4 linked regions of the Homo sapiens genome follow. The gene in region 2 interacts genetically with the main gene of each other region. Each region holds a gene or a part of one and is shown on either strand. Other genes may lie near its edges. The genes, in order: SEC63, GBF1, CREB1 and UBE3D.

Evidence for each region.
Region 1: changes in GBF1 (region 2) and SEC63 together harm fitness more than expected from each alone (negative genetic interaction), as found in Homo sapiens cells (one study listed by BioGRID).
Region 3: changes in GBF1 (region 2) and CREB1 together harm fitness more than expected from each alone (negative genetic interaction), as found in Homo sapiens cells (one study listed by BioGRID).
Region 4: changes in GBF1 (region 2) and UBE3D together harm fitness less than expected from each alone (positive genetic interaction), as found in Homo sapiens cells (one study listed by BioGRID).

What each region holds. Positions count from the first base shown.
Region 1 is NC_000006.12:107,948,198-107,955,223, forward strand, and holds part of SEC63 (translocation protein SEC63 homolog), read right to left. Parts: intron 1-7,026. UniProt on the Homo sapiens protein: Mediates cotranslational and post-translational transport of certain precursor polypeptides across endoplasmic reticulum (ER). Proposed to play an auxiliary role in recognition of precursors with short and apolar signal peptides.
Region 2 is NC_000010.11:102,367,508-102,374,531, forward strand, and holds part of GBF1 (Golgi-specific brefeldin A-resistance guanine nucleotide exchange factor 1), read left to right. Parts: coding exon 1-53; intron 54-710; coding exon 711-947; intron 948-1,231; coding exon 1,232-1,325; intron 1,326-1,703; coding exon 1,704-1,880; intron 1,881-2,203; coding exon 2,204-2,268; intron 2,269-2,353; coding exon 2,354-2,477; intron 2,478-2,666; coding exon 2,667-2,738; intron 2,739-2,876; coding exon 2,877-2,971; intron 2,972-3,199; coding exon 3,200-3,353; intron 3,354-7,024. UniProt on the Homo sapiens protein: Guanine-nucleotide exchange factor (GEF) for members of the Arf family of small GTPases involved in trafficking in the early secretory pathway; its GEF activity initiates the coating of nascent vesicles via the localized generation of activated ARFs through replacement of GDP with GTP.
Region 3 is NC_000002.12:207,525,527-207,532,971, forward strand, and holds the start of CREB1 (cyclic AMP-responsive element-binding protein 1), read left to right. Parts: upstream 1-4,435; 5' UTR 4,436-4,608; intron 4,609-7,445.
Region 4 is NC_000006.12:83,055,832-83,062,857, reverse strand, and holds part of UBE3D (E3 ubiquitin-protein ligase E3D), read left to right. Parts: intron 1-4,835; coding exon 4,836-5,032; intron 5,033-7,026. UniProt on the Homo sapiens protein: E3 ubiquitin-protein ligase which accepts ubiquitin from specific E2 ubiquitin-conjugating enzymes, and transfers it to substrates, generally promoting their degradation by the proteasome.

The sequences.
Region 1 (7,026 bases), on a different chromosome or scaffold from region 2:
TTCCACTAGCCATTTTAACACATATCGTAATGTGTTATATTTACTTAATTACAGGAGGCAGCAGAGAGTAGTGGCTAACAAGAGATGCTCTGGCATAAGACAGAGTTGAGTCCAACAAACAGTCTTCCACCTGGTAGCTGTATGACTTTAGGAAAGTTGGTAACCTCCTCTAGGACGCAGTTTTCTCATGAATAAAATGAGATAATACATGAATCTAGCTCAAAGTGCTACCGTGAGTGCATTCCGCACTACCCACCTTCAGGCTAGCTAGCACTCACTCACTGAACAGCAACAGAGCTGAGTCTAGATGTAACTCTGGAGTCTACTGAAGGCTTGCAACTTTCCGGGAAAGGCTTGGAGGGTAAATTACGAAGGCTGTTGGTCAATTTTAGTTCCTTGGTTTGTACCTCCATGTTGGGGCTCAGTGATACCCAAAATATGGCATTTTGACATGCTGAATGAAGAAGCCTCAAGGTCTCTCTGACTTTCCTCCCTGCCCTCCTGATGCCCCCCACCATATCCCAAAGCCTTCATCTGCCTAAGATCCAGACCCACCAAAACGAACAACTGCTTTTCTTCTCCTCCTGTAGGACCAAGAAGGTAACCACACCTAAACAGACCCTTCACAAGATAATGTACAAGTTAATCTCTGTTCTCTGATCCATTGTCCCTAGCAATCCTATCAACAGAATTCCTCTTCTCCCCCTTCCCATAACCTGTTTCACCAGGATGGTATATAAGCTTCTGAACTACATTGGGATGTGGGGAATCACTCTGTGGTTCGCCCCATGTTCACATTAAATACATGTGTATGTCTTTCCTCCAATTAATCCACCTTGTCTGAGTTGATTTTTCAGCCAATCTTCAGAGGGCAAAAGGGAAGTTTCCCTTGGCCCCTACATCCACACTTTGTTTTCTAAACAATAAACTAATGCATTTAAAAGAATTATTAGTTTATGCTTTGGGGCACACAATGTATAAAGATGTAATTAGGGGAAATCAAATACTGAAAGAGGTGGGAAAGGAGCTATAAAGGAGCAGAGTTTTTATATGTCAAAGTTAAACTGGTATAAATTGAAATTACAATATTTAGGATGTTTAATGTAATCCCCATGGTAACCACACAAAAAGTAACTACAGAATATACTCAAAAGAAAATGAGATGTGAGCAGTGGCTCACACATGTAATCCCAGCACTTTGAGAGTCCGAGACATAGATCACTTGGGCCCAGGAGTTTGAGACAAGCTTGAGCAACATGGCAAAACCCAGTCTCTATTTAAAAATAAAATAAAATAAAAATTAGAAAATGCAAAGAAATGTAAACATTTCACTACAAAAAAAATCAGCTAAACAAAAAAATAGTAATGCAGGAAATAAGGAACAAAAGGATATATGCCTATAGAAAACAAATAGCAAAATGACAGAGGTCCTTCTTTTTACTTTTTGTGTGTGACAGGGTCTCCTTCTGTCATCCAGGTTGGAGTGCAGTGACATGATCATAGCTCACTGCAGCCTCGATCTCCTGGGCTCAAGTGATCCTCCTGCTTCAGCCTCCTGAGTAGCTAGGACTAAAGGTGCGTGCCACCATGCCTGGCTAATATTTTTTTGTTTGTTTGTTTGTAGGAACACGGTCTCATTATGTTGCCCAGGCTGGTTCAAACTCCTGGACTCAAGTGTTCCTCCCACCTCAGCTTCCCAAAGTGCTGGGATTACAGGAATGAAACACTGCACCTGGCCCTCCTTCCTTAACAGTAATTACTTTAAATGTAAATGGTTAAATGTTCCAATCAAAAGACTGGCAGAATGGATTAAAAGCACCTGATCCAACTACGTCCATCTACAAGAGACTCACTTTATATCCAAAGACACAAACAGATTGAAGGTGAAAGGATGGAAAAAATATTCCATGGAAACAGTAACCAAAAGATAGCAGGGTGGTGACTATAAGACAAAATAGACTTTAAAACAAAAAAGATTACAAGAGATAAAAGACATTACATATTAGTAAGAGGTTCAATACAGCAAGAAGATATAACATTTATAAACATTTACGTATCTAATGATCATCAAAATGTACAATGCAAAAACCAACAGAACTGAAGAGAGAAACAGACAGTGCTACAATAATAGTTTCAGACTTCAATACACCCTCCATCCCCAAAAATGGATAGAACAACCAAAAAGAAGATAAGGAAATAGAGGACTTAACACAAACCAACTAGATCTAACAGACATATACAACGCTCACTACCCTACAGCAGCAGCACATACATTGTTCAGAAGTGCCATGGGACGTTTTGCAGGATAGACTATATGTTAAGCCACAAGATATTTTATTTTGAAAGACAGATATCATACAAAGTATCTTCTCTGACCGTAACAGATGAGTATGACCAATAAAGATGAGTATACTGAGATACACAGAAGTTAAATCAGTAACCAATACAGATGAGTATACTGAAACACACGGAAGTTAAATAACTTGCCTAAAATTACAGTAGGCTGCAGAGCCACATTTCAAAACCAGGCATTTTGAAAAAGTAAGGTTAAGTAAGTTTTGAAAAGGGAAGATCAAGCCCCAAAAGTAAGATCAAGGAGTCAACAAAAACTTTTTTTAAATGATACATTTTATCTCAATTCAAAAGGAATTCTTTCCATAACCTACGGAAAGAATAAAAGCATGCTTTTGATTATTCGAAATTCTAATAATTACAAGCAATCAGTTATTTTCTCTTGTCAGATAATACTCTTGTCAAATATATCAATGAAAGCCTAATGATATAAAATGTTTAAAGTGATAACTCTTCTATTGTAAATCAAAAAAGCAGTAAACAAAATTATGCACTTACAAATAATGGTTGGATTGAAATTCCACATAAACATTAAGAACACTTCTCATTTTAAAAGCACTAGGAAAGACAAACATTAACAATTACAAGAAAGCACAAAGTGGGCAGTACACACAAAAGGTCACAGCACAGTATTGTTGGCAATACCAAAGATGGGTAGTGTTAAGGTAATTATGTGCAATTATTTCAAAATGTTAAGGATATCCAAATTACATAAGGCTCCAATCATAGCACAATGGTAAATACTCTGGAAGCCATTAATAGACAACTATGATAAACTGATTGTAAACTTGTATCATTAAAGTTGTTTGACAAAAATATCTGGCTTTTAACTCCCAGAACTTTACGTTACTGTTCTGTAAGTGCTTCTTAGCTATGTAAAACAAAAAGGCTAACACATTAGTTTTTTGGATTTTGTTGTTGTTGTTAGCAAAGAGCACATAGCAAAACAAATATACTACCTCCCAAAATGGCAACTACAGCAAAAGACCATTACTAAGGAAGCTCTCCTCCAAGCAGCACTTCTCAAACATAGCTACAATTTAGAATCATATAGGGATATTTAAAAAATACCAGTACATAACACCCACTCCAGACCAAATAAATCAGAGTATCTGGGGATGGGTACAAGTGTTTTAAAAAGTTCCCGAAGTGGGCCGGGCGCGGTGGCTCAAGCCTGTAATCCCAGCACTTTGGGAGGCTGAGGCAGGCGGATCATGAGGTCAGGAGATCAAGACCATCCTGGCTAACCCCGTCTCTACTAAAAATACAAAAAATTAGCCAGGCGTGGTGGTGGGCGCCTGTGGTCCCAGATACTCGGGAGGCTGAGGCAGGAGAATGGGGTGAACCCAGGAGGCAGACCTTGCAGTGAGCTGAGACCGCGCCACTCCACTCCAGCTTGGGTGACAGAGCGAGACTCCATCTCAAAAAAAAAAAAAAAAAGTTCCCGAAGTGATTCTAATGTGTAGCCAGGGTTAAGAATCACTATGCCAAGGAAATCTAAGCCCTCCGTGTTATCATTGCATACAGAGCTTTTGTCCTTAATTGTCTGAAGAAATATTCATTTTATTCAGCCAATTTGCAAACCAAGAGAGTAAAACAAATAACTACTAAAAGGGGTATTAATTATAAGTACGCTTAGCTAAACATGTTAAGCAGAAATCAAGGCAAAAGTATTCCATTAATAATGTTTTAGATAACAGGTACGTTCAATTAACATGTCAAATATGCCAATAAACGAACTATTTCCATTTTTCAAACCGCAGACTTTACAAGCTGTGAAATGGTGCTATGCTTTCTGGTGTATTCAAGAGCCCACTAATTCCAAAACAGCCATGCTGAAACGACTGTCAACCTTAAAAATTGAAAGTCCCAAATGTGTTGCAGAAAACACACAAAAAAAAACCTCAATAAAGATTAGTTAAACTGGGCCGGGCACAGTGGCTCACAGCTGTAATCCCAGCACTTTGGGAGGCCGAGGTGGGCAGATCCCTTGAGGTCAGGAGTTGGAAACCAGCCTGGCCAACATGGTGAAACTCTGTCTCTACTAAAAATACAAAAATTAGCCGGGCGTAGTGGCAGGCACCTGTAATACCAGCTACTTGGGAGGCCGAGGTGGGAGAACTGCTTGAATCTGGGAGGTGGAGGTTGCAGTGAGCCAAGATCTTGCTATTGCACTGGAGCCTGGGCAACAGAGCGAGACTTCATGCCAAAACAAACAAAAAAAAAATTACTTAAACTGAACTTTAAGGTTGTGTAACTGCCAGAGCAAACCTTTTCATGCTTTCATGCACATGCTATCTCTGAAAATACTGTCAGAAGTCTGAAATTCAAACGCATGCCTACATTTTTGTATTTGGCTACTTAACTGTTTCACAGGAAAACTAAATAAACTAAGCCTCAAAAACAAGTATTAAAATATGCTGCTGTGGCCAGGGAACAGTGGCTCACGCCTGTAATCCCAGGACTTTGGGACGCCGAGGCAGGTGGATCAATTGAGGTCAGAAGTTCGAGACCAGCCTGGCCAACATGGTGAAACCCCATCTCTACTAAAAATACAAAAATAAGCCAGGCATGGTGGCTCGCGCCAGTTTTCCTAGCTACTCAGGAGGCTGAGGCACGAGAATCGTTTGAACACGGGAAGCAGAGGTTGCAGTGAGCCGAGATCACGCCACTGCACTTCAGCCTGGGTGACAGAGCAAGGCTCCATCTCAAAAAATAAAAATACTTATATATGCTGTTGTGTTTCCCCAAAACTGTACTACGGGGGTCCTCATCTTTTACTTAAAATCCTTAAGAACAAATGTGCTTCAGAATTTTTCAGATTTGCCCCGTCCGGGAAGGAGGTGGGGGGGTCAGCCCCCCGCCCGGCCAGCCGCCCCGTCCGGGAGGTGAGGGGCACCTCTGCCCGGCCGCCCCTACTGGGAAGTGAGGAGCCCCTCTGCCCGGCCAGCCGCCCCGTCCGGGAGGGAGGTGGGGGGTCAGCCCCCCGCCCGGCCAGCCGCCCCGTCCGGGAGGGAGGTGGGGGGGTCAGCCCCCCGCCCGGCCAGCCGCCCCGTCCGGGAGGTGAGGGGCGCCTCTGCCCGGCCGCCCCTACTGGCAAGTGAGGAGCCCCTCTGCCCGGCCAGCCGCCCCGTCCGGGAGGGAGGTGGGGGGTCAGCCCCCTGCCCGGCCAGCCGCCCTGTCCGGGAGGGAGGTGGGGGGTTCAGCCCCCCGCCCGGCCAGCCGCCCCGTCCGGGAGGGAGGTGGGGGTGTGAGCCCCCCGCCCGGCCAGCCGCCCCGTCCGGGAGGGAGGTGGGGGGGTCAGCCCCCCGCCCGGCCAGCCGCCCGGTCCGGGAGGTGAGGGGCGCCTCTCCTCAGCCGCCCCTACTGGGACGTGAGGAGCCCCTCTGCCCGGCCACCACCCCGTCTGGGAGGTGTACCCAACAGCTCATTGAGAACGGGCCATGATGACAATGGCGGTTTTGTGGAATAGAAAGAGGGGAAAGGCAGGGAAAGGATTGGGAAATCGGATGGTTGCCATGTCTGTGTAGAAAGAGGTAGACACGGGAGACTTTTCATTTTGTTCTGTACTAGGAAAAATTCTTCTGCCTTGGGATCCTGTTGATCGGTGACCCTACCCCCAACCCTGTGCTCTCTGAAACATGTGCTGTGTCCACTCAGGGTTAAATGGATTAAGGGCGGTGCAAGATGTGCTTTGTTAAACAGATGCTTGAAGGCAGCATGCTCGTTAAGAGTCATCACCACTCCCTAATCTCAAGTACCCAGGGACACAAACACTGCGGAAGGCCGCAGGGTCCTCTGCCTAGGAAAACCAGAGACCTCTGTTCACTTGTTTATCTGCTGACCCTCCCTCCACTATTGTCCTATGACCCTGCCAAATCCCCCTCTGTGAGAAACACCCAAGAATGATCAATTAAAAAAAAAAAAAAAATCAAAAAAAAAAAAAAAGAATTTTTCAGATTTTAGAAAAGTAACACAGCGTTTACACTCAAACAGACCCTATGGGGTCTAAAGTGCACCAATAACCAAACAAATTAATATTCCAAGACAGAACATAACTATTTATTAAGTGAGATAAAGATTATTCAGTAGCCTCCTGTCAGTACAAGTCGGCAAATTATTTTGCAGCAAACTTCTGAAAAAAGTTCCTTATTCAGAGCTTTGAATGAGGCAGTAATTCAAGATTTCTCTTTCATATTCAAGATACTGCAACTGGGCTGCAGAAAAAAAGTCACTATGATGAAAACATCCTTTTACTACAACTGTAATTCCACAGAAACAACTCAAGTTATTAGGGTAAATCCAAGAAAAAAGTCCAAGTGGTGCCCAACAATTTTCATAATGATTAGAATAGCATTTAAGTATTCACCTTAATTTTCATAACACAATTTTGAGCAAGAGCAAACAAATACATCAAAATATGCATATGGACTAAGGCAAGCCTGAAGCAGAGAGCCGGATGTAAAACGGGCAAACTGACACCCATAATAGTTCACCTAACTTTCTATCTAGCAGTATGGAAACCACACAGGGCTCTGAAGCTAAGCGACCAATGTTCTAATCCCAGTTCAACCATACAGGAAAATTACTTACATGCTCTACCCTCAGTTTCTTTACCTGTAAATGGAGATAATAATAGAACCTACCTCACTGCATTGCTGGAGTGTGGTGGCA
Region 2 (7,024 bases):
GGAGGCAAGGACTTTGAGCAAGACATCCTGGAGGACATGTACCATGCCATCAAGTGAGTATACATAGAGAATAGTGCAGTATCTCTGTTAAGAAGAAGCACATTGCTTCCTTTCCCAGTTTTTAGAGTCATGTCAGACTGCAGTGACTCACATGCCCTGGATTTAGCCTCAGGACTTAGTTGGGCAGCCCCCTCTCTGCCAACTGTTTCTTCCTTAAAGAAGCCCAAATGATATTGGGACTCTAGTACTCTAAGCCAGGGTCCAAAGTGCTGCTCTTAAGTAGGATATCATGGCCCCATTTTCTGAACTTAAAACAGGTACATTTTCCTGTATAGATTACAAGATGCTGGCTGGTAGAGAACCCAAGATGGGCACTGGAGTGTGAGGCCCAGGTTACAGGTCAGAAATGGGCCACTTAGTTTTTTACTGTAAATCAGAAAAGGTAGAATTGTTCATTTTATCACACCTAGTAAGAATGTGTGATCTTACTATAGAACTAAAGGCCTCACTTACAGATAGGGCTTTGAGATTATGGGACACTTCCTTTCTTTCTGTCTGCTCCCACTGGTGGGTGGAAAGCAGACCACTGAGCTGCAGTTCTGATGACCTCTCATCAGTGGAGAGTGCTAGTATGGATGAACTCCTAGTCTTGGTTTGGAACTAGTCAGGTTCAAAGCAGTGCAACTGCTCCTTCCCTTACCTCCTGACAGGAATGAGGAAATTGTAATGCCTGAGGAGCAGACAGGCTTGGTTCGGGAGAACTATGTGTGGAATGTGCTGCTTCATCGAGGTGCCACCCCTGAGGGCATATTCCTGCGTGTGCCTACTGCCAGCTATGATCTTGACCTCTTCACCATGACCTGGGGCCCCACTATTGCTGCTCTCTCTTATGTCTTTGACAAAAGCCTTGAGGAGACAATCATCCAGAAAGCCATCTCAGGCTTCAGGTAGCCCAGCTTTGGCCTTGGTCTTCACCTCCCACTAGCTCTGTGAGCTAACATGGTTTTCTCCATGCCTCTCTGACTCCTACTGTTACTTCATTAGAATGGGGTTCCCCCTGAGTTTTTGGAGGGAGGCTGAAGCTTGGGTAGGCTCAGTCTTAAACAGAAACAAAATTAAAAGGTTTCTTCCTGGGACTGACTGGGGAAGAGCCCCATGCAAGCTCAGGGACTTGGAAGGGCTGCTTGGCCTTCCAGTGACTCTGTTTCTGGGATGGGGGGTAACATTACAGGAAGTGCGCCATGATCTCCGCCCACTATGGCCTCAGCGATGTGTTTGACAATCTCATCATCTCTCTATGCAAATTCACAGCTCTCAGCAGTGAGGTGAGCAGGTGCAGGAACTGTGTACTTGGAGCTCCAAAGGAGGACCTCTCTTTTAGCCATGGATCTACCCTTATCAACAGACCTGGTTGCCCTCAGCGTCTTCCCTCACTGCCCCCACTTGAATATACCAGAGCTTAGGCCATTTCTGTCTTGCACACTCTGGGATAAAACTAGTGTTACTTCATGTAATGGGGATGGGAAAGGAGATACAGGAGTGGGGAAGGCCTTAACTAGGTTAACCCACTCCCACCAGTATTATGGGGGATTGAAGCAGAGCCAACAAAAGGACCTGAGGGAACCATCATAGGCAGAGACCTAAGAGATTTTCCTTTCCAGACATTAGCTCGGCCTTAAGTCTGTTCTCTTCCTCTTTTCCAGTCTATTGAGAACCTGCCCAGTGTATTTGGAAGCAACCCTAAAGCCCATATTGCAGCCAAGACAGTATTCCATTTGGCCCATCGTCATGGTGACATCCTGCGGGAGGGCTGGAAGAATATCATGGAGGCCATGCTGCAGCTCTTCCGAGCCCAACTACTGCCCAAGGCTATGATAGAGGTAATTCTTAGTAGGAGACTAGTGAGCGATAACAAGGCAAGAGCTGCAACATTGTATGCTACCTGTACATAGAAGTAAGTGGTTGAGAGTAATGTTGGGCCTGATGCCTGCCACAGCTCACCAGGAATGCCTCAAATGTAAGACCACAGATCTTGGGGGATAGCTGTAAAAGAAGGCTGGTAGATGCCATTGCCAGTCACCAATTGGCACAATAGCATAGGGGCAGAAGACTAGAGGAGGAAATCCAGAGAACTTTGGTGGGTGGAGGCGGGCACAAATGCAAAGGACACATGGAAAGAAATTATTTTGACTTACTTTTCCAGGTAGAAGATTTCGTGGATCCCAATGGCAAGATCTCTCTACAGCGGGAAGAGACACCATCAAACCGGTAAGAGCAGACCAGAGGCTCAGGGGCTTGGGGAGGGAGAGTCAGAACTTTGGGGCTCACCAGGCCATGTGCCCTTTTTCTACAGAGGAGAGTCAACAGTGCTGAGCTTTGTGAGCTGGCTAACACTGAGTGGTCCTGAGCAGTCTAGTGTTCGGGGCCCATCCACTGAAAACCAAGAGGCCAAGAGAGTGGCCTTAGAGTGTATAAAGGTAACTGCCCATCCACCCCTGGTGAGAAAGCCTAAACACCTTCCTATTAGATGCTACTTGGTGAACTGAAGAATAAATCATCCAGGATTTGTAACCAGGGCTGACTCTGCCCTCTCCCCCTGGCTCTTGGGGACATTCTGTTCTCTTCAGCCTTTGTCAAAGACCCCCTCTCTCTTTTGCCCTCTCTAGCAATGTGACCCAGAAAAAATGATCACAGAAAGCAAGTTCCTCCAGCTGGAGTCACTACAGGAGCTCATGAAGGTAAAGGATGAAGAAAGGAAACATGGAACAACTGGCTGAATCTGGGAGGGGTGACAGGGACAGTATTATTTCTGTCAGGGCAGGGCCAGTGGTTGGCTTCTTTTCCATGCCTACTTTCCTGCTGCTGTTCCCCTTCAGGCTCTGGTCTCAGTGACACCAGATGAAGAGACATATGATGAGGAAGATGCTGCTTTCTGCCTAGAGATGCTGCTAAGGATTGTGTTGGAGAACAGGTAAGATGAGCGTAGTCTTTAGGCAGACCCCATGCTGGGCTTGTGCCAAAGGGATGGAAGCCATCTTGCTGAGTGGGCTCTGGGGAACTGTAGGCAGCAGGGGAGAAGCTTACTCATCATACCTGTCTACTTAGGGTATAATACCAATGAGTCCTGAAAGGCCTAGGGGACCTGTTGCCCAGTGGCCCCTCTGGCTGAGACTATCTTCATTCCTTTATGTCTACACAGGGATCGTGTGGGCTGTGTGTGGCAGACTGTTCGAGACCATCTATACCACCTCTGTGTTCAGGCACAAGATTTCTGCTTCCTTGTGGAGCGGGCAGTGGTGGGGTTGCTACGCCTGGCCATTCGGCTTCTCCGGAGAGAAGAGATCAGTGCTCAGGTAAGCAGAATGCATCTTGGAGAGTGGGCAGGTATGCAAGGGATTAAGGCCACAGTTGTCAATTATGAATATGGCCTGAGACAGAGAGTACATTTAGTGCCCCATAGCATGAGTCCAGTGACCAACCACAGGGCTGGTGCAGTCTAGCGGGTGGTACTGGGAGTGAGCCTGGAATGGCCTCAGGCATGGAGCTTGTGTTTGGCACCTCAGCCTCCTATGAATCTGCTTTGTAGGACTGGCCTGCTACTGCCTTATAATAGTCTCAGCCCTATACCTGGTTTCCTGTCATGCTTATGACCCTCTTGAGATCTCTTTGCTTAACTACAAAAAACAACAAGCATAGAACTAATAAGTGGATTCAACAAGGTCACAGGATGTGAGATCAATACACAAAAAGTAATTATATCTCTACATGCTAACAATGAACAATATGGAAACTGAAATTTAAAATACAATACCATTTACAAGGGTTCCAAATAAAGTGAAATACTTAATATATAGCTGACAAAACATGTATAAGATTTGTATGATGAAAACTACAAAACTACAAAATAAATTGAAGAAGATGTAAATAAATGAAGAGGCATACTATGTTCATGGATTGGAAGGCTCAACATAGTAACTTTGTCACTTCTCCCCAAATTGATCTGTAAATTCAACATAACTCCTATAAAAATCCCAGAAAGGTTCTTGTAGACATAGGTAAGCTTATTCTAAAATTTAGATGGAAAGGCACAAGCTCTAGAATAGCTAGAAAGAATAAAGTGGAAAGAATCACTCTCTCTGGGCCGGTTGCTGTGGTTCATGCCTGTAATCTCAGCACTGCGGGAGGCCACAGCGGGCAGATCACTTGAGGTCAGGAGTTCAAGGCCAGCCTGGCCAACATGGTGAAACCCCATCTCTACTAAAAACACAAAAATTAGCAGGGTGTGGTGGCACACACCTGTAATCCTAGCTACTTGGGAGGCTGAGGCAGGAGAATCGCTTGAACTCAAGGCGGAGGTTGCAGTGAGCTGAGATCGCGCCACTGCACTCCAGCTGGGTGACAGAGTGAGATTCTGTCTCAAAAAAAAAAAAAAAGAATCACTCTGGTATTAAGACTTACTGTCCACTTTGGGGGGCTGAGGCGGGTGGATCACGAGGTCAGGAGATCAAGACCAGCCTGACTAACGTGGTGAAACCCCGTCTCTACTAAAAATAGAAAAATTAGCTGGGCGTGATGGTGAGCGCCTGATTGCTACTCGGGAGGCTGAGGCAGGAGAATCGCTTGAACCTGGGAGGCGGAGGTTGCAGTGAGCCAAGATTGCGCCACTGCACTCCAGCCTGGGCAACACAGCGAGACTCCATCTCAAAAAAAAAAAAAGACTTACTCTCGGCTGGACACAGTGGCTCACGTCTGTAATCCCAACACTTTGTGAGGCCAAGGCAGGCAATCACCTGAGGTTGGGAGTTCGAGACCAGCCTGACCAACATGGAGAAACCTCGTCTCTACTAAAAATACAGAATTAGCCAGGCATGGTGGGGCATGCCTGTAATCCCAGCTACTCAGGAGGCTGAGGCAGGAGAATCACTTGAACCTGGGAGGCAGAGGTTGTAGTAAGCCAAGATCACACCATTGCACTCCAGCCTGGACAGCGAAACTCTGTCTCAAAAAAAAGACTTACTGTATAGCTATAGTAGTCAAGATTATGTGGTGTCGATGGAGGGACAGACACGTAGATCAATGGAAAAGAATAGAGAGACCAGAAATAAGCTCAACACAAATATGTTCAGTGGATTTTTTGACCAAGATGTAAGAACAATTCAGTGGAGGAGGAATAGCCTTTTCAATAAGTGGTGGAGTGATTAAAATCCATAGGAGGAAAAACCAAATGAACCTTGACCTAAACCTCATACCTTACAGGAAAATTAACTCCAATGGATCATAGATTTAAATGTAAAGCTATAAAAACTTTAGAAACAGGAGAAAATCTTCAGGATCTAGAGCTAAGCAAAGAATTTTTAGCATGTTTGGCAGTCCTGTGGATCTGTCTCTTGCCTCAACACTGTCTGGATGGAACAGATCCGGGGGAGACTCTCTTTCAAAAAAAGTAATAATTTTTAGACTTGACATTAAAAGCACAATCTAGAAAAGGAAAAATTGATAAGTTGGGCTACATTAATATTTTTAAAAGTTTTGTTCTATGAGAGCCTATGTGAAGAGGATGAAAAGACAAGCTGTAGACGAGGAGGAAATATTTGCAAATCACATATTTGAAGAAAGGTATCTGTAATATAAAAACTCTCAAAACACAACAGTGATAAAACAATCCAATTATTAATAGAAAATGGACAAAACATAGGAACAGATGTTTCACCAAAGAACACATACAGATGGCAGATAGGCACATGAAATGAAGATAGCATCATTAACCATCAGAGTACTGCAAACTAAAACCACAATGAGGCTCACACCTGTAAGCCCAGCACTTTGGGAGGCTGAGGTGGGTGGATCACCTGAGGTCAGGAGTTTGAGCCCAGCCTGGCCAACATGGTGAAACCATGTCTCTACCAATAAATACAAAAATTAGCTGGGCGTGGTCACACACACCTGTAGTCTCACCTACTGAGGAGATTGAGGTGGGAGGATCGCTTGAACGCAGGAGGTTGCAGTGAGCTGAGATCGTGCCACTGCACTCCTGCCTGGGTGACAGAGCAAGACTCCAAAAAATAAAAACACAATGAGACATCACTACCCACTTTTCAGAATGGCTGAAATAAAAAGTAGTGACAATACCAAATGCTGAAAGGACGTGGAGAAACTGGGTCATTCATATATTGCTGGGTGGGAATGTAAAATGGTACAGCTACTCTGCTGGCAGTTTCTTATAAAATGAAACATATAATTACCATACAACCCAGCAATTGCACCCTTGGACATTTATCCCAGAAAAGTGAAAGCTTACTTTCTCATAAAAACCTGTACATGAATGTTTATAGAAGCCTTAGTTGTAATAGCCAAAAACTGGAATCGGCCCAGATGACTTTCAATAGGTGAATAAACTGTGGTACATACACACCATGGAATACTATTCAGCAATTTAAAGCAACAGACATCTCCAGGGAACTATGCTGAGTGAAAGAAAAGCCAATCTAAAAAGGTTATGTAATATATAATTCCACTTATATAACATTTTTGAAATGACAGAACTTTAGAATTTGAAGACAGGCTGGGCGCAGTGGCTCACACCTGTAATCCCAGCACTTTGGGAAACTGAGGCTGGTGAATCACTTGAGGTCAGGAGTTCGAGACCAGCCTGGCCAACATGGTGAAACCCCATCTCTACTAAAAATACAAAAATTAGCCAGGCGTGGTGGCTCGCACCTGTAATCCCATCTACTTGGGAGGCTGAGGCAGGAGAATCACTTGAACATGGGAAGCAGAGGTTGCAGTGAGCTGAGATCCTGCCTGCACTCTAGCCTGGGCAACAGAGTAAGACTCCATCTCAAAAAAAAAAAGAATTTGAAGACAGATTGCTAAGGATTAGGGATGGGGGCAGGAAGGAGGAGGTGGGTGTGGTTATAAAAGGGCAACATGAGCTGGGCATGGTGGTGCATGCCTGTAGTTCCAGCTACTCTGGAGGCTGAGACAGGAGGATCACTTGCGCCCAGGAGTTTGAGGCTGCTGTGAG
Region 3 (7,445 bases), on a different chromosome or scaffold from region 2:
GAAGTTGTGATTATAGAAAAGCTCTCAAATACTACTTTCTCTTTGAAGCCTTTTATAATCATCTTATGGGACCTTCCCCCTATTCTGGACCTCTTTCAAGATACTTTTCTTATACTCTATCAAGTTACATCCATGTGTGCTCCTCTTTCATCTCCCTGATATTGACCACATTTTGCAATTGGAAAACTGAGTCAAAAATGGGGGATCACCTGTAGTCCCAGCTACTCAGGAGGCTGAGGGCAAGAGAGTCACTTGAGCCCAGGGGTGTGGGGCTGTCACATGCGATGACCGCTCCTGTGTACAGCCACTGCACTTCAGCCTGAGCAACACAGCGAGAGACTGATCCTGGAAAAAATTTCTTTTAAAATGCAGGTGGCTTCCAAATCCCAGAGACAAAACTTGGATGCTGAAAGGAGAAATGTCAGATAGTGAGATTGAAAATGCTAGAGTATATCCGAAGAGAGAATATCCAAGAGAGAAATGTCAAAGTAGAGAGGCTGAAAATCTAGAGTATACCCAAAATGTTAGTAGTAAAATAACTTGCATTGGAATGAATGGATGATTGAATAAATGAATGAACAAAGTTAGGTGGGAACGGAGGTCATTTGAGCAGAAGTCAAGAAGAATATATGTTTTAATAATTGTTTGAGGCCCACTGGTCTGACAGTAAGGGCCCAAATGAATAGGGAAAGCTAGCCTCCAGTTAGAAGACACCTAGGAAGTTAGCAAAATAATCAATGATAATAGAGTCTAAATGAAGGTTAGTGTATATAAAAAGGAAGAATGAATATGAGGACATTTTTAAATAAAAACTCACCATATTTGGTGGGTGATAATTATAGGTTATGAGTAAATAATTCCAAAGTTTTTTGATATCATGTATAGAGCCACGGTAAGAAGAGCAGGAAGATGAACTCAATTTTGAAAACGTATTTGACACGAGGATAAGCTATCCAAGTAAAAGCTAGTAATAGGCAACATTTTTCCTAACATTGTTCCAAGTATACTTCACATGTATTATGTCACGTAATCATTACAATAACACTATGAGGTGCTATTATCATCTTTATTTTACAGATGGGAAAACTGAGGCACAAGAGTGAACAATTTGCCCAAAGTCATTAGCTAATAAGTGGCTGAGCCAGTGCAATGAATTCACCCCCACCCCTGTCTCCTGCAAATTCGTATTTTTGAAATCTTCACCCTCAATGTGATGGTATTAGGAGATGAGGCCTTTGGGAGGTAAACCCCTTGTGAATGGGATTAGTGCCTTATAAAAGCAACCCGAGAGCTCTTGCTCTCTTTCTGCATTGTGAGGTAAAGGGAAAAAACAGCCATCTACAACCCTGAAGAGGGCCTTCACCAGAACCTGACCATGTTGGCAGCCTGATTTCAGATATCCAGCCTCCAGAGCTATGAGAAATACATTTCTGTTGTTTATAAGCCACCAGTCTATATGGTACTTTACTACGGCAACCTGAACTCACTGAGAGCCAGGATTTGAATTCAAATGTTGAGAAAACTTTGCCCGGGACCACTCAGAAATTCACTATTTATTCGATAAATACCTAACAAGTACCACTATATTCTAGACATTGTGCTGTTGCTAGGGAGAGGAAAAGCTGGTAGTGAACAAGACAGACGTGGTCCTTACCTGCACAATTACATGGACACTAAACAAATAATGAGAAGTAGGAATTGGAAAAGAAAGTGATAAGTTACAGTTAAGTAGGAGGAATGGGTGACAGAAAAAAATTCCAGGGGAAGGGAAGGGCATGTGTAAATGCCCTGAAGTGAGAGCCTACAGTAGGGAATAAAAAGAGGAGAGCCTGGAAAAAATTAAAATACTATGGCAGGAGTGCAGGCAGCTAGGGGGACAGATGGAGAGGCTGGAGAGAAAGACAAGTACAGATAATGGAGCTTAGACAATGTGTGGTAAGCAAAGGGAGACCACTGGAGGAATTTAAGCAGGTCAATGATCAGATTTATATTTAAAAAATTACTCTGGCAGCAGTATGGCAAATGTATTGGAACGAGGCAAGAGCAGTTTTGGAGGACCTGAATGGGTTACTGTGGGACTTCAAGCAAGAGGCAACAGTGGTTTAGACTAGAATGGGAATGAAAAAATGGTCATGGGAACAGAGAGAGGTCACAAATCCAATTTTCCAGGGAGCAGACAGATGTAGGTGATTCTGCTGTGTGTTGGAGGTGTGCTAGGTTTCTGGCATGAACTGGGTAGATGTTAAGATACCCTTTACTGAACCAGGGACTATGGGAGGAGCGTTTTGAAGGAATTATGATATACGGGTTGAGTTTGAAATGCCCTAAGTCATCCAAATGAAAGTGTACCAAAGGCAGTATGCTGGGAACTATGAATGTAGGATTCCAGAGCAAGATCTAGGCTTGAGTTATGGATTGAAGAGTCTTTGACAGAGGGTATTTGATGCTGCTGGGAGAGCATAAGACCACCTAGGAAAGTGTATGGGGAGACTCAGTAAGAGGGCCAGGGTTCAGCTCAGCATGATTCCAATGTGTAAGAGGTAGATCAAGGAGGAGCTGGTTGTTAAAGAGCAAACTCAGGTAGGGAGGAAACCTGGGACATAAGACCAGAGGGAAGAGGGTATTTGGAAGCAACTGTGGTCAATCGCGTCAAATACTGGGATGAGGGCTTGTAAAATGAGGACTGAAAATGATCCGCTGCATTTACAGTCATGAAGCTTGTCTGTGGACAATTCAGAGCCACTTCAGGTGAGCGGTGGGGACACTGGAGAGGGCTGGGAGGTGGGACATGAAAGACTGTCCATGGGGTAAGAGACAGCTGCAGTTGTTGGAGAGCAATTTAGGGAGAAGAGAAATCTTTTTAAAGAATTGAAAGACTTAAGCATGTTTAAATACCAGTAAGAAAGAGCCGGTAGAGAAGGAAAGGTTGAGAGTAACAGAAGGAAAGGAGACTCGTTAAGGGCAAAGTCCATAAGAAAACAGTAGGGTACCTGGAGTACCAGGAAGGACAACTCTTTCTTTACAAGAGAAGTGAGTCATGGGCGGAGTCCAGAATCGAACCCTCTCTGCTTCCTAAAGACACGTCTCCTTTAAAGGACAGAAAAAGAATGATTAAGACTTGAGGCCGGGCGCGGTGGCTCATACGTGTAACCCCACCACTTTAGGAGGCCGAGGCGGGTGGATTACCTGAGGTCAGGAGTTCCATACCAGCCTGGCCAACATGGTGAAACCCCGTCTCTACTAACAACACAAAAATTAGCCAGGTGTGGTGGCAGGTGCCTGTAATCCCAGCTACTAGGGAGGCTGAGGCAGGAGAATCGCTCGAAACCGGGAGGCGGAGGTTGCAGTGAGCCGAGATCGTGCCACTGCACTCCAGCCTGGGCGACAAGGGCTAGACTCCGTCTCATTAAAAAAAAAAAAAAAAAAAAAAAGACTTGAAACCCCAAGGAGAGGGCTGCAGAGTTCACTATCAAGGAGAATGGGGACCTAGTGGTGCCGTCCTGAGAGACCTCTGAAAGAACAATTCAGTAGTTTCCAGCCACGGAAGTCCCCCTGCTGGGTTTAGGGTGCAGTGGGTGCGAATCCCTGCTGTAGAAAACAGGCTGAGGAAAGAAAGCGACACAGGATGTTGTCTGGAGAAAGGCGGGGAGGTAGGATGGGGCATATTTCCAGGGGTCCGGGCAGGTTGTGTGGCTTGGAGGCCTCCGAGGGCCGTCGACGTCAGCCATGGTCCGGGCAGAGCCCCGCAAGGTGCCACAGTATCGGGGCCAGCGCCCCCCGGAAAAGCATGCTCCGCTGGCGGCCGCCAGGTTTCTCCGCGGAGTCTCGGAAAGGAAAACCCGTCCCCACGGGGGTCCCACGACGCCCCCGGGTCCCAGGCCCCGGGACGTTGGCAGAGGCGCAGCAGACCTTCTTCCCCAGCCCGCACGGCTCCAGCGGTCCGGCCGCGTCCCAGCCCGGGCTGCCCGTCCCCCGTCTCCCGGCGGCGTCGGAAAGTTCCCGGGGCTGGCGGCGGTCAAGAGCAGAGCCAGGGCAGCCGCAGCCGCCTTCTAGCCCGCCGCTCACCGCCGCAGGGGCAGGCCTGAGCGGGGGTTTCCACCAAGTCGCCGACACCCCTCGGGAATTCCCCCACTGGGCCACACACAAACCCCGCTTCCTCCTTCAAATTTCCGCTGCCGGCTTTACCGATGCGAAAGCCGCGGTGGAGTTTAGACCACTCCTCCCGGCGCCGGGCTCAGCCCGCCTTCGCCTTCCCTCTCCCCGCGGAACCCCTTCTCGTCGCCCGAAGAAACCCGAAGGTCTTCGGCAAGTTCCGTCCCCAGCGCGGGGGCGGGGCCGCTCGAGCTGCTCCGGGCCTAGCTCGGCTGTTTCCGTGCGCGGCCGCTGCGCACTCGGCACTGGGCGGCGCTGGCTGGCTCCCTGGCTGCGGCTCCTCAGTCGGCGGCGGCTGCTGCTGCCTGTGGCCCGGGCGGCTGGGAGAAGCGGAGTGTTGGTGAGTGACGCGGCGGAGGTGTAGTTTGACGCGGTGTGTTACGTGGGGGAGAGAATAAAACTCCAGCGAGATCCGGGCCGTGAACGAAAGCAGTGACGGAGGAGCTTGTACCACCGGTAAGAGGAGCAGGAGGAGGAGGCAGGAGCCAGAGAGAGCCGGGGGGACGGAGGGGGGACGGGGAGGCGCCGGACACCCGCGCTTGGGGCCTTCCCCTCGCAGGAGGGGCCGCGGTAAAGATGGAGCCTCCGCCCGAGCCCCACAACATCGCCGCCGCTCGCAGCGAACAAAGAATAATGGCGGCGGACTGGAGCCAGCGGCGGCCGGGGCGGCAGCGACTCTGCCTGCAGCCAGCGGCGGCGCTCATGGCGGGGGGCGGCGGGCGGCGGGCGGCGGGCGGGGTGGGAGCCGGCGGCCGGGGGTGTGTGCGGGCGGCCGGCCGCGGCGAGCTGGCGCCCGCGTTCCCGCCGCCGCCGCCGGGCCGGGCGCGGAGCCGGGAACCCGGAGCCGCCCCGGGGGAGGCCGCCCGCTCGGCCCGGCGCTGCCCCCCGCGCCGCTCGCTCGTCCGGCCCCCGCCGCCCGCCTCGCCCCCGGCCCGACCCGGCCGGGCCTCCGGGGCAGCCGCCGCCTAGGTGCCGGTGGGGGATGGAGGAGGAAGAAGGCGACAGTTGAGGGCAGAGGAGGTGAAGGTGCCTGCTGCCTTCCCGGTGGCTTCGGTGCCTGCCATGCCCGCTTCGCAAGGGGAAGAGCTGCAACGTCTGACCTACTCTTCTCTCCACTCTTTGTGCAATAAAGTTCGAAACCCAAGGTTTCCTCTCGTGCTGTATTTTATTCGTGCCCTTTCCCCCCCGCTCCTACACCGTTGAGGAAATGCTGCTTTCTGCCCTGTGTTGCTTAGTTGAGAGATGAGAGCTTGTGCTTTTGGGGGGAATTTTTGACTCCCTCACCCCTTTGCTTTTTTTTTTTTTTTAAAGTCAGTCATGGAAATGCATGCTTTTTGGGAGAAAGGGTGCTAAGAAAAACATTTATAATAACTTTTTAAACTGTTGGGATCTTATAAAAGGGAAGCTGGTGTTTGAAAACAGTTTCGGTTTTAACCCTTTTTAATAAGGTAATCATCACTTGAGATCTATCATTCTGAAACACTTCGTTGGAACGAGTATCAGCCGATGTACTCTTGTTTTACATCATTTCGCGGGGTGCAACCTTGCCAACCGCGTTTGGGTCATCTGGATCTCCCCTCACCCTCCGTCCCACTCCCCCTACCATATTTCCCACGAATTTCTGTGTGAACTTTAATGAGAGATTGATTTAATACTACTACTAAAAATAGACATTAAAGTATCCATTATTTGTCTCATGCAGTAGGTAACCCCCGTCTTGAGATTGACAATTTAAGCCACAAGCTGTATTTTTTCTTCGCCTGTTGGGAAAAGAGGACAGCAGAAAAGTCATTGACACATTAAAAATTAAAAGACAGTTTTTGAAGGACGTGCGGTATGACCTATTTAAGTTTGTAATACCATCTCAAGTTATAATTCTAACCTCAGCTGGCGTCTAACTTCTGAAGGTTTAGTAGAAGATACTTTTGATTGCTGCCTATTGAAATCTTTTACATTTATGGCTCATTTCGTGATTTAAAAGTAAAGCCCCGAACAGTTATTTTAGGTGGTGCAAAAGACGAACAAGTTTGTTTTAAAAATACTTGTCTGTCACTGTATGATTGCATTGTGATTGATACGTACAAACCTTCTGGTTAAGAACAAATATTGATTGGCAGCAGAAGCACTGTCTTATTTTTCTGTATTCTAGTCACTTTTCCAAAACGTGCTTTGCTGTATTGCTTCTCTTTAAAAGACCACATTGGCAATTTGTCATTTCCAAGAAAATTAAGAAGAGGCAATAAAGGCAGGTTTTCTATAAAGATTGGGGAAATGATTTTATTTCCGAGCACTGAAAAAATTATAGTATTGATAATGGTAGCTTACCATTTTTCCTTTATGTTGTTCCGCAAGCCACTATCAGTAGAGTAGAATTTTTTTTCTTGTTAAGAATATAAGTCGGGCGCGGTGGCTGAGGCCTGTAATCCCAGCACTTGGGGGGTCGAGGCGGGCGGATCACTTGAGGTCAGGAGTGCAAGACCAGCCTGGCCAACATGATGAAACCCCATCTCTACTAAAAATACAAAAATTAGCCGGGTGTGGTGGCACGCGCCTGTAATCCCAGCTACTCGGGGGGCTGGGGTTGCAGTGAATTGAGATCGTGCCATGCACTTCAGCCTGGGCGACACAGCAAGACTCCGTCTCAAAGAAAAAAAAAAAAAAGAAAGAATATATGACTCTTCATTTGTGAGATTTTTAAAAAATTGTTCACTGATGGCCGAGTGCGGTGGCTCACATCTGTAATCCCAGCACTTTGGGAAGCCGAGGCAGGCGGCTCACGAGGTCAAGAGATCGAGACCATCCTGGCTAACATGGTGAAACCCCGTCTCTACTAAAAATACAAAAATTAGCTGGGTGTCGTGGCGCGTGCTTGTAATCCCAGCTACTAGGGTAGCTGAGGCAGGAGAATCTCTTGAGCCCAGGAGGTGGAGATTGCAGTGAGCCGAGATCGCGCCACTGCCCTCCAGCCTGGTGACAGCGAGACCCCATCTCAAAAAAAAAAAAGTTTACTGATAAGTTCTTTCTTTAGTCTTGCCCGAGAGATATTTTAAATTGTATTTTTTATTTTTATTTTTATTTATTTGTTTTTTTGAGACGGAGTTTGGCCCTTATTGCCCAGGCTGGAGTGCAGTGGGCTGGTCTCGGCTCACTCACTGCAAGCTCCGCCTCCCGGGTTCAAGCAATTCTCCTGCCCCAGCCCCCCGAGTAGCTGGGATTACAGGTGTGAGCCACCGCGCCCGGCCTGTTTTATTATTTATACATTCATAATTTGTGATTCTTAGCAATTCCAGGTG
Region 4 (7,026 bases), on a different chromosome or scaffold from region 2:
TATCACCATCAGTTGAAAAGGCCATCATTTCTCCCATTAAAATAACTCAGTCTTCATGAGAAATCAGTTGACTATACTGTTTGCATAGTGTGTCCTTTCTACCTTTTTAACCTTTCTTATGTCTTTCTGTATAAAGCAAAAAGCTGTAAAAATACTGTATTTCCCTAAAAATAGCATAAAACTGTATGCTAGTTTTAAAAATATATAGTTGGGTGATTTTAAATCTGTTCTGATGATCTGTGTGTTCTAATTAAAATGTTTAGTATATTTTATAGTTAATTTAAATATTGGTGTTCTTGTTCCTAACTGCTATGGTTTGGATGTGTTTTGTCCCTATGTTTTCTCACTTTGATCCCCAATGTGGCAGTGTTGAGACATAGGGCCTAGTGGGAGGTGCGTGGTTCCTGAGGGCAGATTCTTCTTGAATAGATTAATGCCCTCCCATGGAGATGGTTGGGTGAGTTCTCTCTCAGGAATGGATTAATTCCTGCCATAGTGGGTTGTGAAAAAGAGTCTGGCTTCCAAAGTTTACATTCACAGATGTAAAGATCTATTTATATTAAGATATCTTAGCATTTTGGGATAAACTTTGGCCATTCATTTATTCAATCCACAGATGTTTATTGTGTTCTTACTCTAGTGCCAAAAATTCAAATTCTAAGTGCTGAGAATACAGCCATGAACAGTAACAACAGCAAAGACAAAAACACCTGCCTTTGTTGAGCATAGGGTTTAATGGTGGCAGTAGAGAAGAGGCGGCAGAGAATATACAAAATAAATATATATTTGATAGAAGTGGAGAAAAAAATTAAACAAAAAAGGAATGGGGAGAAAAAAGTTACAATCTTTTATTTCAAATGAGAAACTAACATTTGAGTATTAAACTGTAACTGGTGAGGTGTAGAACTGCCATACCTGGTGGGAGACAATTTCCCTTTGAGAGAAAGTGAGTATGAAAGGGTGCCTAGTTCAGAGAGATGCGGGTGAGTTGGGGGAACACATAGTAAAAGATCTTATGGCAGTGTGCTGGTACATGTTTAATAACCTACTCTCCATGAAAATAAACAAAAAGACAAACTAAGGTCTTGATTTGAAGCATTTGTTGATTTCTTTGGTGTGAATACTTTCACCACGTATGACCTTCAGCCTACCAACTGGGTGAGGTGAGTTGACCTGCTTTGCAGAACTCCTAGAATTTTAACAACAGGTTCTCCAAAGCTTGTAGCAGCAGGGCCTGCTATACCACTGTGCCTTATGGACCATCGAAAGGACTTTAGCTTGTAGTTAGAGTGAGAGATGAAGTCATTGGATAGTTTTAAGCAGTTGTGATACCTGACAGAATACAAGTCAATGGTGAAGAAAGCCTCAAGTATGAAATTATTGTATGAACTATGTCAATCAAACTTAGTCTTAAAGTAGGAATTCTCCTAAAGAACCATCATCCAACACTCACAATTGGGAAATGTGTTGCTACCATCTTACATCATTCATGTTTTACCAGTTGTCTACATAATATCCCTAATAACAGAAGAATCCAGTTCAGAATAAGGCATTGCATTTCACTGTCATGCTTCCTCTGTCTGTTTCAATCTAGAAGAGTTCCTCATTTTCCATTGACTTTCATGGTCCTGACACTTTGCAAGATGATAGTACAATCATTTTGTAGAATATCCTTCCATTTGGATTTGTCTTATGTTTCTTCAAGACAAGATTCAGATTTTGCATCTTTGGCAGGAATATAACAGAAGTGAGGCTTCCTGTCAGGTGGCACATGATTTTGCTTTGTTCCATCAAATTGGTTATGTTAACTTTGAGCACTTAAAGTAAGATAGTGTCTGCCATGCTTCTCTACCTTAAAGTTACTCTTTTTCTCTTCATAATCAGTAATTGGAGAGGTATTCTGAGATTATGTAAATACCCTGTTCCTCATCAGAGTTTCATTTTATTCATTTGTGTGTCAGTAAGGATACATGATTCTTACTGTGGGTTACTCAGTGGGTTTTATTTTTTATTTTATTCAATGGGCTACTTTTTTGTTCATATTATACCAGATGTGGCCAAGGAAGTCCTTTCTGGATGGTTTCTGCGTCTTTTTTGGTAGGTACCTGTCATTCTTTGATTTCTTCATGTTCCAGCAACATGTTCCAGGCATATTTCATTCTTTCCCTGTTACAGCCCTGGATGTAGTCATTTTACTGAGGAACTTTGTTTCTGGTTTGTTCATTTCGTTTTTTAAAGCAGAAAATGGCCTTTACAAACCAAGATCTGGGCACTAAGTGTACTCATCACTGTTGGATGTCGCTTCTCCCAGAACTAGGGTATGTGTGTATGACTTATATATGATGTCTATGTATGGTTGTGCCTACATACCTATGTACATACATGCATTTACAACCATCAATATTACTGTATCTATTTGTAAACATTGAAAACCATGACTTCACACAGGTATTTCTAATTCTGCCCCACCACCATAGGGTCTATTCTAGTTTCCTCGCTTTCTCTTTTTGTAACTCCATTCTCCCACAGTGAGAATCATGGCCCTCATTGTCCTAGTGGCATTTATTTATTTTGTCAGTCTCCCTCTATGTAATTAATAGTCTGCTGGCATCCTTTGCCACCTCCCCCTGCTCATTGTTGACACTCTCCTCACCTGCTTGGACCCTGTTATGGACTGAATGTTTGTGTCCCCTCAAAATGTACATGTTGAAGCCCTAACCCCCAAAGTGATGGTGTTAGGAGATGGGGCTTTGGGAGGTAGTTAGATTTAGATGAGTTCTTGAGGGCGGGGCCCCCCTGATGAGATTAGTGTCCTTATATGAAGAGGAAGAGGCACTGAACTTCCTTACTCTGCCATGTCTGTTGTTTAAGCCACCCATCTATAGTATTTTGTTATAGCAGCTGAGCTAAGACAGGCTCTGAAACCCCATCCTGAGCTGGCCTCACCTCCTGTTCAGATTTCCTCCTCACCTGTCTTGGGATTTGACACCCCTGCTGAGTGGTCCTCCTGGTGGATGCCCTCCACAGCCTGCTTGGTTTCTCATATCCATGCTGGGCCACTGTGTCACCACCCTTGCACTGATGCCTCCCTTGCTTGGCCCTATGGATGCCCTCCACAGTCTGCTTAGTTTCTCAAATCCGTGCTGGGCCACTGTGTCACCACCCTTGCAATGATGCTTCTCTTGCTTGGCCCTATAAAATGACTAAAGTTTTTGGGACTGGGAAGAAATGTGATAAACCAGAGATGGGGTGGCAATGGGGACTTAGGAACCCAGTGGTATCTCTTGCGGCACTTGGAAGTGTCAACTCTACACAGTCTAGTTTGAAAGTCATTGAGGTAGCAAATGGACATTGTGTTATCTTTAGAGCAGTGGTCAGAGAACTATGGCCCATTGGCCAAATCCTACCTGCAGCCTGTTTTGGTACAGCCTGTGAGCTAAGAGTTGGATTTTTCTTCTGTATCTTTTTTTCTTTTAGACAGGTTCTTGATCTGTCGCCCAGGCTGACATGCATTGGCGTGATCATGGCTCACTGCAGCCTCCTGGGCTTAAGTGATCCTCCCCATCTCAGCCTCCTGAGTGGCTAGGACTACAGGTGCGTGCCACTATACCCAGCTGATTTTTTATTTTTTATTTTTTTGTAGAGCCAGAGCCTTGCTTTGTTGCCCAGGCTGGTCTCAAACTTCTTGGCTCAAACCATCCTCCCACCTCAGCCTCCCAAAGTGCTAGGATTAGAGGAGTGAGCTACCTCGACCTGCTGATTTTACATTTTTTAAGGGTTGTTTTTTAAAAAATAAAAAGTATAATATGTATTCTACTTTGAGACCATACATGGCTCATAAAGCCTAAAATATTTACTATCTGGTCTTTCACAGAAATAAAGTTGCTGACTCTTGTTTTAGAGGATCATTATTTCTTAAACACCATTTCTTGAAATTGAACTTTTGACTCAGGTTTGAAACTGTCATCCCTGCAAAAAACTCAGATGCTTAATATTCTGTATTGCTAACTAAGTGCAGATCCATATGCTTTGAAAAGGAACTAGCCAGAAAGTAGCTATAAGATTTTCTAAGGCAGATTTCTAAGGCCTAACCAAGATCCACACCTGAGCACATGGTCTACCCTCTGTACTCAGATGACACTCAAGCAAATGGCTTGCTGTCTGCACTTAGTTGACACCATGTGGATGACCTGCTGTCTGCACTTAAGAGGGAGCCATGGTACTTTGTACCTCTGTTGCATTGCTAAGCGTATTGCAGTTTCAGAGGAGGGTCATTTCCATAGATGCCTTTATCCCCTCTATACTTTTGATGCCTGGGGGCTTTTGACAGGGACTGTGTTTTACTCTTTATTGCCTATACTGAGTAATTTGTGTTTGCTCTGAATTGGATTAGTAAGTCCTTTCACACCTGATATTCATACATCACTGTATCGTTTTCTTCATTAATTCTTTTTATTCTTAAAATTGACAGGTTTTTGTCTTGTATCATTGTTTCACTGAATCTTGGTCTCTTTATTAAAATCTTGTATATGAAATAACAGTACTTTGCTCTGATTTACTATAAAACATTATTTTAGTGCTCTTCTCAGAAGGAAGAACCAAAAATCTGTCCCAGGACTTGCATATTATGGTGATGGTGAAGGGCACTCTGATCAGATCTAAATCTAGTGTAGGTTGCTTTCCTTTATGATCTGCTTGCTGCTGTTTTTCTGGGGCAGTGACTTTAGAGCTCCTATTGAAGAGGAAGAAAGAGATCCTTGGCCATTTTTGTTTCTTTCATCATGTGGTTTTCATTGTGAGAAATAATTTGTTTGGGTTTTGTTTTTAATTACCAGAGAACCGAAAGAAGGAGGTATGCCCATGAATATTTCCATAATGCCATCTTCACTCCAGATGAAAACCCCTGAAGGCTGCACAGAAATCCAGCTTCCAGCAGAGGTCAGGCTTGTACCTTCCTCTTGCCGTGGGCTACAGTTTGTTGTTGGAGATGGACTGCACCTGCGACTGCAGACGCAAGCAAAATTAGGCACAAGTGAGTAATATTAGCACTTCTGCTGCTGTATTTACCTTTTTGTTATAAACCAAAGGTGATTTTTCCTTTGATAAGTTGAACTTTTCCCAGGTGAAGGGGTTGAGAAGCTCTAGGGTCTTTGTCAGCTCTGCCAGTTATTGGCTGTATGCAATTGAACATGTTACTTAACCTTTCTGAGGCTTCTTCCCTCCCTCCCTTCCTTCTTTCTTTTCCACCCACAGCAAAATTGAGCAGAAAGTATAGAGATTTCCCATTTACCCACTGCCTTGTTTCTTTAATTGTAAAATTTTCTGGCTCACAGATGGGAAGATTAAATCAGATGGCAGTTGTATAAGACCTGATTGATTTTAAAGCATTACATGGAAATTTATTCATTCAACAAATATTTTGGTTTGTGCTATGTGCTAGGCATCAATCTAGGTTCTGGGGATACAGAGTGAACAAGGTAGGGGAGGTGTCTGCTCTCATGGAGCTTACATTCTAATTGGTGGGAGCAGATAATGAGCAAACAATTTAAATATTAAGAAAAGTGTTATGATAATATAAAACAGAATAATGGGATAGGGAGTGACTAGGGTTGGCTGAAGGATGATCAGTGAAGGCCACTCTGAGGAGGTAATGTTTGACCTGAGTCCTGAATAAGGAAATCCTATCCATGTGGGGACTGTTCCAAATAGAGAAAACAGTACACAAAAGGTCCTACAGTTGAGTTTGATACTTAATTTGATTTTAACTTTTACTATGCCTGTTATATTTACAACATTTTGTAACTGGTATAATGATTCGGTAAGGCAGTGGAAAATTTGCTTTTTCTAAGACCTCAGGGTTATTTATTGTATAAAATTATTGGTTCATTACATCTATTACAATGTACGTAATATATGCTTTGGGGGATTAAAATTATGTCAAAGGGGGAAATAGGCTGTAAAAGACTTATGTGATGTTTATTATCAGAGAAAGATTGTAATTCTTTCAGCTGCACACTGACACTTCGCTGCTGCCTCATCTGTAATAAACCTTTCATCTGCGCTGTGTGGATCCTGGAGATGGGGTCAGGAGGAGTGTTTGGAAGAGCCATTTAGGAGATGTTGAGTATTCCCCTGAGTCTGTGCTCTTGGCTTTTGTGAGGAAAGAGAAGATAGAGAGGGTTTCATTTCTTTTTTACTGGAGAGCAATTTTTGCTCAAGTCCTGGGTTAGTGAATAACTAGTTTGAGTTGGGCAGGGTTAGTTTTAGGAACAAAGGGTAGGGAAAAGAGATGTCATGGCACTTAAATGTTGTAGGATAAATACTAGGAATGACTGTTGGAATAACCATAGCAAGAAGGTTAGGGTCACCGAGCTGGGAAGTAGACTCCCTGATTGCACCTAATAATGGGCAGAGAAAGTGTTGTTTCAGGGAAGAGGCCATGGGAGGCTGGATGTTGTGTTGTCATCACCTTCTCCTTCACAACAGTTACCTCTTTCACAAGAGTAACCACAGCAGGAATTTTGTGTTGGGTTCTGAGATTTGGGAAAGGCAAGCATGAAAGCCACAGTGGAGTGTTTTCTGGGATTGTGATTTTAGAGATGGAGGAATAGAGACCACCAGGGACATAGTATTGGGTTTTTGCCCATCCATATTCTGTATTCTGTAACTGAATATACAAATATCAAAACTGGAATTATTTTTAAAAATTTAAATCTGCAAACATTGTTTAAACTATAGGACAAAATAAATTGACTGCTATGTGCTGATTTGCATATTGTTTGTGTTCACTGGTCTCCTATTTCTTTACACTTTTAATATATTTTGCTCAAATATCTGAAAAGGAAAATTATCAAAGTCCTGTTCCATAGTGCATGAAAGAGTATGCAAAACAGATTCCTCAGCACTTAATTGCCTGAGTGCTTTCCATATAATAGATGGTGTATAAATATTTGTGGAATGAATAAATATGAATAGATATGTACTGGTGTGAACTTGAATCAAACTGTTTTGTAGGAAGTGACTTGA